4 linked regions of the Homo sapiens genome follow. The protein of the gene in region 4 purifies or fractionates together with the protein of the main gene of each other region. This does not show direct contact. Each region holds a gene or a part of one and is shown on either strand. Other genes may lie near its edges.

What was found.
Region 1: the proteins of RASGRF2 (region 4) and GAR1 purify together in Homo sapiens (affinity purification with mass spectrometry, with the first as the bait; one large-scale study listed by BioGRID). This does not show direct contact.
Region 2: the proteins of RASGRF2 (region 4) and NOSIP purify together in Homo sapiens (affinity purification with mass spectrometry; one large-scale study listed by BioGRID and IntAct). This does not show direct contact.
Region 3: the proteins of RASGRF2 (region 4) and CSTF2 purify together in Homo sapiens (affinity purification with mass spectrometry; one large-scale study listed by BioGRID and IntAct). This does not show direct contact.

What each region holds. Positions count from the first base shown.
Region 1 is NC_000004.12:109,818,549-109,821,999, forward strand, and holds part of GAR1 (H/ACA ribonucleoprotein complex subunit 1), read left to right. Parts: intron 1-452; coding exon 453-512; intron 513-3,451. UniProt on the Homo sapiens protein: Required for ribosome biogenesis and telomere maintenance. Part of the H/ACA small nucleolar ribonucleoprotein (H/ACA snoRNP) complex, which catalyzes pseudouridylation of rRNA.
Region 2 is NC_000019.10:49,560,057-49,563,769, reverse strand, and holds part of NOSIP (nitric oxide synthase-interacting protein), read left to right. Parts: intron 1-3,077; coding exon of another isoform or gene 3,078-3,078; coding exon 3,079-3,148; intron 3,149-3,713. UniProt on the Homo sapiens protein: E3 ubiquitin-protein ligase that is essential for proper development of the forebrain, the eye, and the face. Catalyzes monoubiquitination of serine/threonine-protein phosphatase 2A (PP2A) catalytic subunit PPP2CA/PPP2CB.
Region 3 is NC_000023.11:100,830,178-100,833,890, reverse strand, and holds part of CSTF2 (cleavage stimulation factor subunit 2), read right to left. Parts: intron 3,084-3,713; coding exon of another isoform or gene 3,024-3,083; intron 2,842-3,023; coding exon of another isoform or gene 2,669-2,841; exon of another isoform or gene 2,383-2,668; intron 2,377-2,382; coding exon 2,235-2,376; intron 1,158-2,234; coding exon 982-1,157; intron 712-981; coding exon 419-711; intron 1-418. UniProt on the Homo sapiens protein: One of the multiple factors required for polyadenylation and 3'-end cleavage of mammalian pre-mRNAs. This subunit is directly involved in the binding to pre-mRNAs.
Region 4 is NC_000005.10:81,089,193-81,092,975, forward strand, and holds part of RASGRF2 (ras-specific guanine nucleotide-releasing factor 2), read left to right. Parts: intron 1-3,608; coding exon 3,609-3,769; intron 3,770-3,783.

The sequences.
Region 1 (3,451 bases), on a different chromosome or scaffold from region 4:
TCCTTCCTTTCTTTTTTCCTTTTTTTTTTTTTTTTTGACAGAGACTCACTCTGTTGCCCAGGGTGGAGTGCAGTGGCACGATCTCATCTCACTACAACCTCCGCCTCCTGGGTTCGAGCAATTCTCGTGCCTCAGCCTTTCAAGTAGCTGAGATTACAGGTGAGCGCCACCATGCCCGGCTGATTTTTGTATTTTTGGTGGAGGTGGGGTTTCACCATGTTGGCCAGGATGGTCTCAAACTCCTGGCCTCAAGTGATCCATCCGCCTTGGCCCCCCGAAGTGCTGGGTTTGCAGGTGTGAGCCACCACGCCCAGCCCCTGGAAATTCATTTCTTATCTTTCCTATATATATCCATACATTCTAACCTTGTTTTTGAAATTATACATGAATTCAGAACATTTGATATCATCTTTCATCTTAATTGCTCATTTGTTCCTTAATGAAAATAATAGTATTTTTCAGTTAAGTTGTCAGAAAACATGAAGGCTTCATCCTTTAAAAAACTACAGAAGGTGAGTCAAACTTATGATACTTGGGATCCTTGGTTTTATAAGGGAACGACCTATCTTAGGAAAGTCCTACTTGGAGCACTTGAGACTTTCCCAACATATCACTAGTAAAGCTCTTAAATTGAAATGTTCCATGCTATAAATATTGAACACACTAATCTTTAAAAGTGATTTATTTGATACAGCCTTTAGAAAGTAAAAATTACAACTTTTGCTCATATTACCAAAATCTGTAAACTGCTAGAGTAAGAGTTTTTTGTTTATGTAAAACTCTCTTATTGAAAAGCTTTCATGACCAAACATTCTAGGTAGAATCTTAATTTGTAAAACTTACGTTATTTGAGAGGCGGTAGGTACTAAGTGATTTCACAAGAACTTCAATAACATGATATATGCTATGAAGGAAAAATACAGGTTGCCATGAGAAGCTTTGTAGTGCCACCAGCTTTTTAAGTCTGTAGTGTTTCCTGAAAAAGTGAGCTTGAAGCTGAGGCCTGATTGTTGACTAACAGTGATTTCCACACCTGGTTGCATGTCAGAGTTATCTTGGGGAGCTTTTAAGAAGATGTATCTCTAGTTTCCACTTCTGGAAATTTGACCTAGGAGCTCTTAAGTAGCGTCCAGGATTCAATTTTAAAAAGGAAAAGCACTTGGATAATTTTGATGTAGTTAGTCAAACACTTGAGAGCTGCTGAGCTAGTCAAAGAGGAAGAGGAAAGTGCATTCCAAGTAGAGAAAACAGTATGTGCAGTCTCTGAGAGCAGGCAACTGAAAGGATACAAAAAGGCAGACATATAGGTTAGGAATGAAACATTTAGGAGAGGTGGGGAAAGTTGTGAATTAAGACCAGAGAGGTAGGAGGGGGCTTGATTAACTTAAGCCTTCAGGTGACAGGAAAGAGTTTAGACCTTAGTTTCAATTGTGTTTTATTTTTGAATAATGGGATAACACAGTTAAATGAATGCTTCAAAAGAATACTGGGAAGATAAAAAGGCACCTTGGGAAGCGGTCAATATTGTGTGAGAGGGGCCAGATAGGAGGCTATAATAGTAGTTCTAAAAGAGATGGTATTTTGGACTCGGTAGTGACAGTGGAAATGGAAAAAATGGATTTATGAAAGATACAGGAAGTAGAATCAATAGGACTTGGTAATTGACTAGCTATTGAAATTGAAGAAGTAAAAAAATCACCATCTTTCAGATGTCTGACATCAACATCTTTGTGGGTGATGGTACCAATTAATGAAATGGGCAACAATGCAGAGGAGGGGGATTGGGGGAAGATAATGAGTTGGGTTTTGGACATAGTGAGGTTGAGGTACTTGTGAGACAGTCATGGTCAGTTTAAAGGAAGAGTCTAGACTGGAAATAGAATTGGGAATTTGTTAAGTATACAGACAGTACATGAAACATTGTAGGAAGAAAGAATGAAAGGAAAAGAGCACCTATGAAGAGTTTTGGGGCACCTCCTAAAACTAAAGGTCTGGTAGTGGAAACTCAGAAGTAATTGCCAGTTAAAAAAAAAAAGGCAAACCACAAGCCTGTCATAAAAGTGGTATCACAAAAATTGAAAGAGTGTTTCCAGGAGGGACTGCTCAGCTATGGCAAAAGGCTGCAAAGTGTTCATTGGAAGACAGCCACATAGACATCAGGGAGTCATGGAGCCAGTGCATTGGTGGGCCCGGGAGCCAGAATGGATTAGGAAATGAGAGGGAGACAATAGCTTGTTGTCAGCATATGGCTACTAGTTGTAGAAACCTTGGCAAGTACTCAGGGGATTGACTGCTTCTGGCGTGCCTGGAGCTGTTGAGCCCAGAAAGAAACAATGCTGAAAAGGGATTCTCATCTTGTGACCTGAAAAAAAAATGCTGGTAATAGCCACTTAAATTCATCAGAATCCCTTAAATCACTTAAATTTCTCAGAATTATTTATTTGGGGGCTTATTGTTTAGTTTTTTGGGTTTTTGCTTTTTAATTACAGATACTAACTTGAGTACATTCTACCTCTCCCGGTTTCCATACCCCCTGCTATGTTGAGATTCAGCCCTCCTTACCCAGCCTGCGTTATTGTGAAGTTTGTAGACCAGTGCTCTCCACTTGAACTTTTTGTAGTGATGGGAATCCCTGCCCAGTAAAGTAGCTCTTAGCCACATGTAGCTATTGAGCACGTGAAGTGTGGCTCATGTGACTCAGGAACTGAATTTTTAAACATTAATTAATGTAAATATAAGCCACCTGTGGCTGGTGGCTGCCATATTGAACAATGTAGATCTAGACAATATTTTTGAGATGATGGGCTGTGAAGGGAAGATGAGTAATAAGGTGATATCTAGAGAGGGATTCAGAGATCTTATTATAAGTCATATATTACAGTTTTGAAATCCTCGTGTGTTTTATGTAGAAGAACTATGATACAATATGCTCTTTACATCTCATTATTTGAGAAATGTCCTCTTTAACCCCAATTATAGGATGGGTATAGTTTCTGTATATCCTTCATTACTTTGTGTGTTCAGAAGATACCCTTTTGATCCTTTATTAAAGACTTGAAACAACTAGTATGCGAATGCTTTATTTTGAATTTTAATGCTGTGTTTTTTAATAGTTTTATTTTTCTTACGGCAGTTCTGTTGAGTGGAAATGTTAAATAATCTATTTCTAAAGAGAAATGATATTGAATTGGTCTTGATTTTTTAATATGCATGTAATGCTTATTGTGTGCCAAAGTACAAGTGCCTTATATACATCACTTTTTTGATCATCACACAAACATGTGAGATAGATACTCTATTCTCTACATTTTACAGATAAGGAAACTAAGGTAAACTAACACAGGAATAGAAAACCAAACACCACATGTTCTCACTCGTAAGTGAGAGTTGAACAGTGAGAACACATGGACACAGGGAGGGAAACATCACATACCTGGGCCTGTCGGGGGAT
Region 2 (3,713 bases), on a different chromosome or scaffold from region 4:
TAATCCCAGCACTTTGGGAGGCCGAGGCGGGTGGATCACCTGAGGTCAGGAGTTCAAGGCCAGCCTAGCCAATATGGTAAAACCCTGTTTCTACTAAAAATACAAAAAATTAGCTGGGTATGGTGGCATGCACCTGTAATCCCAGCTACTTAGGAGGCTGAGGCAGGAGAATTGCTTGAACCCAAGAGGCGGAGGTTGTAGTGAGCTGAGATCGTGCCATTGCACTCCAGCTTGGGCAACAAGAGCAAAACTCGATCTCAAAAAAAAAAAAAAGAATTTTCAAGCACAAAAGATATGATGTGCCAGGTGCAGTGGCTCACACCTGTAATCCCAACACTTTGGGAGGCCAGGAGTTCACTTGAGTCCAGGAGTTCAAGGCCAACCTGGGCAACATGGCAAAACCCCATCTCTACTAAAAATATAAAAATTAGCTGGGCGTGGTGGCACATGCCTGTAGTCCCAGCTACTCGAGAGGCTGAGGCAGGAGAATCACTTGAGCCCAGGAGGTCAAGGCTGCAGTGAGCTGTGATTGTACCACTGCACTCCAGCCTGGACAACAGAGTGAGTCCCTGTCTCAAAAAAAAAAACAAAAAGAAAAAACGATGTTAGATTAAAAATGGGTGGCAGAGAGGGAAGTGGAACGGAAATACAAGTTCAAAGAGAAAAACAGGACATGTATAATTTTCTGCTGTTGAAACAGCTTTTTCTTGCATTTTTCAAATGGTCTCAAATTATTACAGTATTTAGATTCCATCAGCTACACATTTACGTTGCTGGAAATTGTATCCTTTGCAACTGTTTAAGCTTGGGAGAATTTTTAGGTGGCAACTTAGAGATGAGTGAGACAAGTATATAATGTTACTAGATCTTCTCTCTTCTCTTCTTTTTCTTTTGACAGAGTCTCTGTCTGTCACCAGGCTGGAGTGTAGTGGTGCAATCTCCACTCCCTGCAACCTGCACCTCCCAGGTTCAATGAGTCTCCTGTTTCAGCCTCCCGAGTAGCTGGGACTACAGGCATGTGCCATCACACCCAGCTAATTTTTGTATTTTTAGTAGAGACAGGGTTTCACCATGTTGGCCAGGATGGTCTCGATCTCTTGATCTCGTGATCCGCCCCCGCCTCGGCTTCCCAAAGTGCTGGGATTACAGGCATCAGCCACTGCACCTGGCCATCAACTTCTTTGTTTTTAAATTTAATAGAGATGGATCTTGCTGTGTTGCCTAGGCTCATCTCCATCTCCTGGGCTCAACAGTCCTCTTGCTTCAGCCTCCCAAAGTTTTGGGATTACAGGCGTGAGCCCTGAGCCTGGCTCTAAATCATTTTAAGGGATAAAAAAGCCTGCAGGGGCCAGGCACAGTGACTCACGCCTGTAATCCCAGCACTTTGGGAGGCTGAGGCAGGTGGATCACCTGAGGTCAGGAGCTCAAGACCAGCCTGGCCAACACGGTGAAACCCCGTCTCTACTAAAAATACAAAAAAATTAGCCAGGCGTGGTGGCAGGCACCTGTAATCCCTGCTATTTGGGAAGCTGAGGCAGGAGAATCGCTTTAACTTGGGAGGCAGAGGTTTCAGTGAGCCAAGATCATGCTATTGCATTCCAGTCTGGGCAACAAGAGTGAAACTCCGTCTCAAAAAACAAACAAACAAACAGGCATGCAGGCTGTTTACTGGCCAAGCAGTCTTGGTGAAAGCTGCCCAGCCTCTGTGGGTTCAGGGCTTCTCCTTTTACAAATGAACTCCAGAAAAGTAGGGGGCTCCCTTCCTCACACCATACACAAAAATTAACTCAAAAAGTAAAAGTTAAAATGATCAAACCCCTAGAAGAAAACATAGGAATAAATGTGCATTATCTTGGCTTAGGCAATGTCTTTTTTTTTTTTTTTTTAATTGTGACAGAGCCTTGCTCTGTCTAGGTTGGAGTGCAGTGGCATGATGTCGGCTCACTGCAACCCCTGCCTCCTGGGCTCAAGTGATTCTCAGTGCCTCAGCCTCCCGAGTAGTTGGGATTACTGGCGTGTGCCACCACGCCCAGCTAATTTTTGTATTTTTAGTAGAGACGGGGTTTCACCATGTTGGCCAGGCTGATCTTGAACTCCTGAACTCAAGTGATCCACCTGACTCAGCCTCCCAAAGTGCTGAGATTACAGGCGTGAGCCACTACACCTGGTCTGAAACCACTTTAAAAGGGTTAATTTTATGGTATGTGAATTGTGTCTCAATAAAGTCATTTAAAAGGGTGGGGGTTGCCCTTAAGTATGGGGAATGATCAAAGGTATCAAAGTAAGGTGGCAAAATGTTGACAGCTGCTGGACCGCAGGACATGGGTACATCATGGGGGTTCCTTATACTATTCTGGTTTTGTATGTGTTTGAAAACTTACAGAATAAAAAAAGCTTTGCTTTTTGAATTGAGCTCCAGGGTTCTGGGGTCTTCTCTTCCTCCTTTACCTGCAGTGGGAGTGGAGGTAGCTCTTCCCCTAGACACAGAGCCCTACTCTGACCTGCCCTCTGATCGGTCGATCTGAGACATAATCACAGCTGCTAGATCCAGTCGCTAGTGGACTGGCAGGCAGCGATTGGGTCAAGCCTTAGCTAAGTGTCAAGCCTTAGCTAAGTGCCCAGCCTTGAGCCAATCACTGGGCTGGTCCACGCCTTGGCCTCAGTCAGAGCTTACAGATATGAGAGGGGAAGGGAAGGTGGAGTGGATTCATCAACAATAGTGGCCCCCTTGGTGTCTTTTTTTTTCCCCTCCATTAAATGGCACAGCCACCACCCTAGCTAATCTGAAGTAGTGGCTAGAATTTGAACTCTGGTCTCTCACCCTCTTACCTCCAAACAAAGAGTTTTGTTGTTAAAGGTGCTATTTTCACATATAAATGAGTCTAGGTGAGTCTGGAAGGAGGACTTCCTGGAGGAGGCCTGGCGACCACATGCCCTCCCTCTCTTCCACCTCACCCCCCTTCTCCGCCTCCGCTTTCCCATCAAGGGGGGCAGATCAGCTCTGAGGGCTGCAGAGGTCTTCCCTGTGCTGCCTGCCTCCGGTAACCACAGTCCTGCCACTGTCCCTTCCTCCCTAGGATGACGCGGCATGGCAAGAACTGCACCGCAGGGGCCGTCTACACCTACCACGAGAAGAAGAAGGACACAGGTGCAGGGCTGGGGTGGGAAGAGGCGGGACATGGCTGTGTCTTGGAGTCACCCTCTCCCCTCGTGCCCCAGGTTTTGCTTCCTCTGTCCCTGTCTCTCTCCCGCCCCCGATATACACTGATGGCCATGACCATGTAAACAACAGCTGGGTGATCCCATGACCCCATGTGGCCCGGCACTGTGTTCTCTGCCTTCTGCGCATGAACTCACTCCTCCCAACAGAGTGTCAGGGAGGGTGCTCTTGTTACCCCATGTTCCAGAGGAAGAAACTGAGGCCCAAAGAGGGACAGGCACTTGAGCTTGGTCACAGTCAGAAGGGTGGAGGGGAGTCAGCCGTCAGCCCCTCCACCAAGCTGCCACTCAGTGACCAGGCCTGTCTGCCTCTCACCCTCCAGGGTTGACAACTCCCTGTGGGTTCAGCCCGTGGCCCCAGCACACAGGCAGCGGCTCCCAACTGCCTGTTTCTCTCTGAGTCCCCCACCCCCACCACCGCGTTGTCTCTGTGCCTCTCTCTGGGGCTTTGGAGACGGACATGTCTCCTGTTGCTCCGCCCCTCCATCACTCTG
Region 3 (3,713 bases), on a different chromosome or scaffold from region 4:
CATTAGAATCATTTGGGGGAAGTTTTTCAAACTATCCATGCTCAGATCCTACTAATAAGAGATTCTGAGTTATACCTCGGATGAGATCCGGGCAAGTATATCTTGGAAAAAACCGTGTACATGATGTTGGTTTGTACCCCAATCAAGACTACTTTCTAACCCCTAAATTTTCAGGGGCTCTGCTCCAAATGAATAGCTATTTATTGTGGGATAAGGTTGTTTTTTTTTGAACTACAATCCTGATAGCCAGAAAATCACCACCCTAAGGGACAGAGAAGCTACAGGGAGATCCAAGTCTTCCCTTTCTAACAAGCTAAGAAACAGCCCAAGTCAGAAGGCAGTAATAATTAGGCTCAATAATCAATTCCTGAATAGATCAAGATTTCACTTGGATGCCAGAAGTCAGTGTTACACATACCTGTCTGGATCCCTGGGGGACAACCGCCCCCATGTTAATTGGACTGGGACCCTGCATTCCACTAGGTATAGGTCCTCTGGGGCCAGGCACTGGGCCTCTGGTATCCATGCCTCTGGCCTCCATCCCTCGGACTTCCATTGCACGGGCCTCCATCGCTCGGGCCTCCATTGCACGAGCTTCCATCGCACGGGCCTCCATTGCACGGGCCTCTAATCCTCTGGCATCTAACCCTCTTGCCTCCATGGCTCGGGCCTCCATCCCTCGTGCATCTATTCCTCGGGGATCCCTTCCACCTATAAAGAAAAATGTAACAAAACCATTATGTAGCTACTTGCATGTACTGCAAGAATGATGAACAATCCAAGAAAGATAGAAATCTCTTCTAGTCACATTTGTCCCCTCAGCTATTAACATATGAGACTATTGTCTCCTCCCCAGTTTCTCAGATTTGTGGATAAACCTTAAAGATGCTTGCAAACCTACTGTTCCAGCATTCTTTATCCCAGATTAGAGCCTAAGACAGTTGAGTTCATTATGGCATTTGCAATGTGATCTCCCCTTACCTCTGCCATCCAAGGGTGGACCCCTCTGATCTAGCATGGGTCCTCTTGGTTCTGCCATTAGAGGTCTGGGCTCGGGTAATGGCCCTCCCCTCAGTTCATGTGGGGGTGGTCCTCGGCTCTCATGGCCAGGGACATGGTGCATGGGTGGACCCTGATGAGGTGGTCCCAAGTAACCTCTGGAGATGGAGAAAAACGTTGTATTTTAAAATAGAACAAAACAACAACAAAGTACCAACCAGATCAGTAAGTAAACATCCAACAAAGAGCTGATGTAGTCTATGAATACTAACAAGAAAATAACACCAAATAGATGGAAGAAAAGCTACAGAGATATAAATCCATGTATTCTAGAATTTCGTTATTTGGTTCATAATTAGGGAGGAATCAACGAATATTCATTATATGTATGAGTTTGCAGAACAATGCATAAGAACATGAGCTCTGGATTCAGACTGTATGGGTTCAAATCTAGGCTCTATCACTTATTAGCTGTGTGATATTGGACACATTATTTAACTTTTCCACACATCAGTTTCACGTGTAAAATGGGACTAATAATGGTATCCATCTCACAGGATCTTGTGGATTTAATAAGATGATCTAAGTAAAGTACTCAGAGCAGAGTCAGAGGCATGATCCCCATTAATGTCAATTATTATTACTATCATTATTTTATTTATTTATTTACTTTTGAAATGGAGTTTCACTCTTGTTGCCCAGGCTGGAGTGCAGTGGCATGACCTCGGCTCACTGCAACCTCCACCTCCTGGGTTCAAGCGATTCTCCTGCCTCAGCCTCCCCAGTAGCTGTAATTATAGGCGCCCGCCACCACGCCCGGCTAATTTTTCTATTTTTAGTAGAGATGGGATTTCACCATGTAGGCCAGGCAGGTCTCGAACTCCTGACCTCAAGTGATCCACCCACCTTGGCCTCCCAAAGTACTGGGATTATAGGCGTCAGCCACTGCACCCGGCCTATTATTGCTATTATTAATATTTCCACTACTATAAATTTCCCTGTTCAAGTATGTATACTAAAATTTCCAATTTCTAAAAATATAATAGCTCAAAATGACATACTCAAGTACATAGTTCTGCCTTAGGAGAAGTGCTTACCCTTGGACAGTGGCCATGAATATTGATCTACCTTTTGAAGTAGGCAAACAGGTACAACTGGTACAGAAAGATTTTGTTCTCAGGGAAGAAGGGACAATTCTGATTTCTTCAACTGTTTCCTTCTATGTTAGTGCTTACCTAGGCTCTACCTCTCCAGTTACAGAAAGTAAAGTGCCTCCCCGTGGATCATTCGGAGCATCTCCTAACAAGCCTCGAGGGGTTGGGACATTCGCAGGCAAGGATCCCCGCTGCATAGCTGCTCTGGGGTCTTGCATCGGCACTGACAGGGAAACAAACGGGGAGTTACTGCTGTGAAAGACACATAAGCAAACAAGAAATGACTCTATATACCACTGACAACATAATTCAGACACCTTAGAGTGGGTGAAACCTCACCACAGCAGAATCCTCTTGCAGCTCAAGAACAGAAGCAGGGTGTAGGCAGAATCTGTGCCATGTCAGAGGTATGGATGGAATTATATAAAGAGCAAACTGGGGAGCAACCTGCCAAGGACTAGCACTGCGACCTGGAGAAACTTATGCTCCTGGTTTTCCTTCTAATCAATCTTAGTTCAAGGACCAGAGTCACAAAACAGAGGTAGAGTCTTGGCATATGTGAACACTGCCATGGCTCTGCAAGAACCCGCTGTCTCCTTACAGACTGCTATTCCATCCAAGCCTCCTGACACCAGTAGGGAGGGAGTACAGCCTCGGACAGATGCCCATATCATCCATGTTCTCTGCCCTGTGTGAAGAGGTCAATCTTAGGCTTGTGGCCTCAACAGGAAAAAATTAAAAAAACAAAAACCCAAAAACACTACCCTTTTGGGTTCTGAACGCGAGGATGACTGCCACGCAGCTCTTTTCCTCTCAACGTCCCACCCTGAACACCACAAGCAAAAGGAAACCCACAGATACAATGGGTACCTTGAACTCGCTCAATTGATGCAGGCCCGGCGGGTCCCACGGGCGAGTGCTGTAGGGTTCCTAGGTAAGCAGTAAGTTCAAAAGGAGAAAGAGCAGACACTTAAAATAGCTTGCATACACACGCAGAAACACACACACATGGAGATTGAGATTTACATATATAAGTTAAAAAGCCAAGAGTTCATCGGCTTGCTCCAGGCTACAAAATCTCCCTAAACTACACTAGCTCCTTTGGGTCTCTGAAATAGTTCCATTTTGACCAGATAGCTTTTGAAAGGGAATCCCATGGGGGCACTGGTTTGATCTAGGTGGGAATAACCTGACATTTTCGATTTTCACCTCTGCTACTAGTTTTCCGTTAGGTCTCCTTATGAAATCATTAGGAAAAAAATATATAAAAAGGATAGTTTTGAATCTTCTAGTTATGCAAAGAACATAAATGTAGTTTCAGAAGCAAAACATAAAAGAAACTGCACTGAATCTGGAAGGCAAGATTCATTCTGAAACGGCCATAACTGAAGTACGGCAATTCTATTTTTGTCACATTTTAAAGCACAAAAATTTCTGCTGTCAAAAATGTATCAGATGGGGAAATGCAGTGAATGAACTTTACATGATGAAAGAGAATATCACTCCACAAGAAATACTCTGCCACAGCAAGTCTTTGATAATAAACATCATGACAACAGC
Region 4 (3,783 bases):
TTGAGGCGTTTTCAAAAATTATTATTTTAAAAAAATTTAGAGGGATTCTTATTTTCTATGAAATGGTCTACAATTTATCTCTAAAGGTGTACTAATATTTGTGTTAATTACTTTTAGGGATGATATGTGGTCTATTTCTATGTGCGTGTGTGTGTGTGTGCATGCGTGCATGTGTGCATGTAGTTTCCACCTTATGTGAATTTTTATTCATAAGAACTAGAAAAATACGTCATCCAGATCATCTGAAAGATCACCTCAGAATAAAGGCATCAGCAACTCTTGAATGTTTTTTGATGAGGATTTAGTGATTGAAATAATGAAAGTTTTATTGTAAATGGTTTCCCATTATTAGTCTGTTGGATAGGATACAGAAGACTATATTATAGAAATGGTCTGATATTATCATTGTTTTCTAAAATCTATTAATAGTTTGTTGAATAAATGTGTGAGTGTCTGAGGCAATGATAGGAAAACAGTCTAGCTGCATCACTGGAGGTCAAATCCTGTCTCCCCTACTTCCTTGCTGTGTGATATTGGGCAATTTACTTAACTTCTCTATGCCTCAGTTTCTTCTCCTTAAATTGGAGTTAATAGTAGTAGCTATCTTTTAGGATTGTTGTAAAAATGAGCTAATGCTCACAAAAGCACCTAGACTAGTACCTGCAAGATTATGATAAACTTTAAAAGCCAAGATCCAAATTTTGGAATGACTTCCTATTTTCAATAACATGAAATATGTATGAATATTTAGTAGAAGATAAAGGCACTCTAAGCTGACATTTTGTACAAAATCTATTATGCATTGTGAACAGTGTTTTGTGGAAATGTAAGTCAGGAAAATGAAATATAGGTGACTGAATACAGGACTAAGTGCCTTGAGAATAAGACATGGACCTTTCTGGTATTTTAATCATTCCTAGACTCTAAGTCATGCGCTTTCAATGTACCAGTGTTCTCTGAAATTTTAACTTTGGGTCTAGAGACAGTTATATCTTCTCAAATGCCTAACCCAATAAGCTGGAAATGGTTCTTCATTCTTTTTCATTACTCAGTAGAATTAAGAATAAGGGGCATAGTCTTGAATGCCATTCTGTGGGAATGAAGTGATTGAATTAACAGAAATTTTGTTGGAAGTTGACCCCAATTATTAGAGAGACCGATGACCAGGATGCAAAGAATCATGCTATAGCAATGATCTGATGAATTACTAAATGAATACTAAGTATTTCTCTAATTTGTATTAGCTAGCGAGGAATCCTTTCTTCATATCTCATAGCTGTATTGAAACATCATGTCAAATGCAAGAGAAAATGTGAAAAAATCCTCTTAAAATGCTTTTTCCAAATATGATTATTTCACAAACCATAGTGTTGCAATTTCTCACTTTTAATTCAGATGTATACATTTCTGTATGTACCTAATGTACACAGTCTCCTATGTCTCCCTTCTACTTGGATATAAGGTAAACAATTATAGATTAAGCATATTAGTGTATGGTTGCCAAGGAAACATTTATTTTTTTTGTCTCACAGCTGAAATTCACAGTAATTGCTAATATATGAGCTAACAGCGTATTCTGTAATTTCTTTCTAAATTGTATTTATTTTTATGTATTCTATAATTTCTGACATAGAAAATCACTAAATTGCTAGAAGCATTTACTAACGAACACATTATTATTGAGTTTTCACAGCTTGCTTATAGCCTTTCTGAAAATGACTCCCAGAGCTATTTGTCCACCAAGATTATTTGTCCAAGCCTCAGTCTTTCACTCAGCCCTAAGTCATGGGCCTGATGGCTCATGGCCCCCATGGCAGAGCTAGAACTTACTCTCTTCCCATCTGTCTTCTTTCTGAGTCTTATATTTTATGTGGCTGAATCCCCTGGCTACATCACTCCCTTCTCACTTAGGCATGACCTTAGGCGAGCTACTTGGCCTCAGACCTCAGTTTCCCCATCTGTGAAATGGGAGGCATTAAACCATGTCCTCTGCAAGGCCTCTGGCTTTGATTGCATCCTGAGCCCTATGAGCCCATCCTTCTGCTGCTATGACTTGCTCATAGACTTCCCTAACTTCTGCCTCCTGCTTTCCCCTGCCTCCAGTACTCTATGTCATTCCTTGCTGCCTGGGCTGCCAGCCAGTTTGCTCCCACCCACCTCACCTCCTTCATTCACTCTCCTCTTGCCCATCCCTTCGTGGGAGTCAAGCCGTCTCCTGGCCCATTGTTCCCCAATCCCACACCCTCACCCAGGACTTCTTCCTTGCTATTCTTTAGGCCCAGAATAGCTGCCTACTCTGTGTCTGTCAAGCATCCCACTGCAGCACTCACCAAAATAGACAGTGTGAGATCCAGGCGTGGAAACTTGGGTCTCTTGCCACCCTGTACACCTTTCAATTTCTGTTAAAAAGTAGATGCAATTTGCAACATTCATATGTTAATATGAACATTTTGTGACTCACAATCATAGTTTTACCAACTTACATATATATATTATTTATATGGAGAACTTTAGTGGTCTTTTTCTGCTTATTGAAGTAGTTTGTGCTCATTAAAAAAATCAAGAAGCTAGAAAAATGTATGAAGAGGAAAATAAGGTTGTCTACAATCTCATCTCTTAGTGATGACTGTTGTTAATGTTCAAGGGTTGGATATGCACTTAATGATTCTTCTGAGGGTAATATGAGCCTGCAGAAGGCTGCATTTGGGGTAGGTGGTAGGTTAAATAAATGTAAGAAATTTGACTATCTCAGGGCACTTCAGAAGTCAGAATCAAGAGGTTGGCAAGAATCTTTGTTAGTACTTTTTGGTTTGATATTTAACTTAGATTGGAATTTTATTTTTGGGGTAGGGGGAGGTTGCTATGAGGGTGAAATCTAGAAATAATCAAAGGTAATGTTGGTATTATAAAGTCTGTGTATAGCTTCCCACATTAAATGGAAGGTAGTTTTGCTCCTAGGAGTATACTGGGTATAGATTTTATGTGGATTATTTTCTGTTTAGATTCCACAAATAATTTTTATCTCACATAATTTAAATGTAACTTGAAATAGGTGTCCTTTAAAAATAGTTCTTAGCTAAATTTCACTGAATTATATAATTTATATATTTTTATAATATACATGTATTGTACATTCTATTTTTAAAATACAAGGTAAACTGTATTAATATGCTATTTATCTACATTCTGTGCTTCAGGAAGAATACATTGCATTTGCTTTTTGTTATCATATTATTCTATATAATTATGCAATATGTATGTTATTATTAAATACATAAATTGATTGGATCAGATCACTAAGGACAGATGGCAGAAGTGCTTCATTCTTTGAATTCAATTTTGCCATCTTTCAAACTTATTTTCCAGTTTATAGATGAAGAATCAAGTCTAAAGTGTTTCACAAAAATATTAGGAACAGTTCAGCCCTTAAAATACAATGCATTGTTTCTTCTGCTCAGACTGGAAGAGAGTTACTTGTTCTGATGATGTGTCACATAAATCAATCCCTGGTATTTTGGGAAACAGACCTTAGTGTTTATTGCCGTGGACATGGTCCTCACTTGACAGAATTTTAATTGCTGTGTATTCTTCATTTTTGTAATCACCAGGTTCTCTTATTCAAGTACCTTCCGTTGAGAGGGGGAAACTTAGTAAAGTTCGCCTGGGTTCGTTGTCTTTGAAAAAGGAAGGAGAGAGACAATGCTTCTTATTTACAAAACACTTTTTAATATGTACAAGAAGTTCAGGAGGGAAGCTTCATCTGCTCAAGGTACTGGTTTTCCA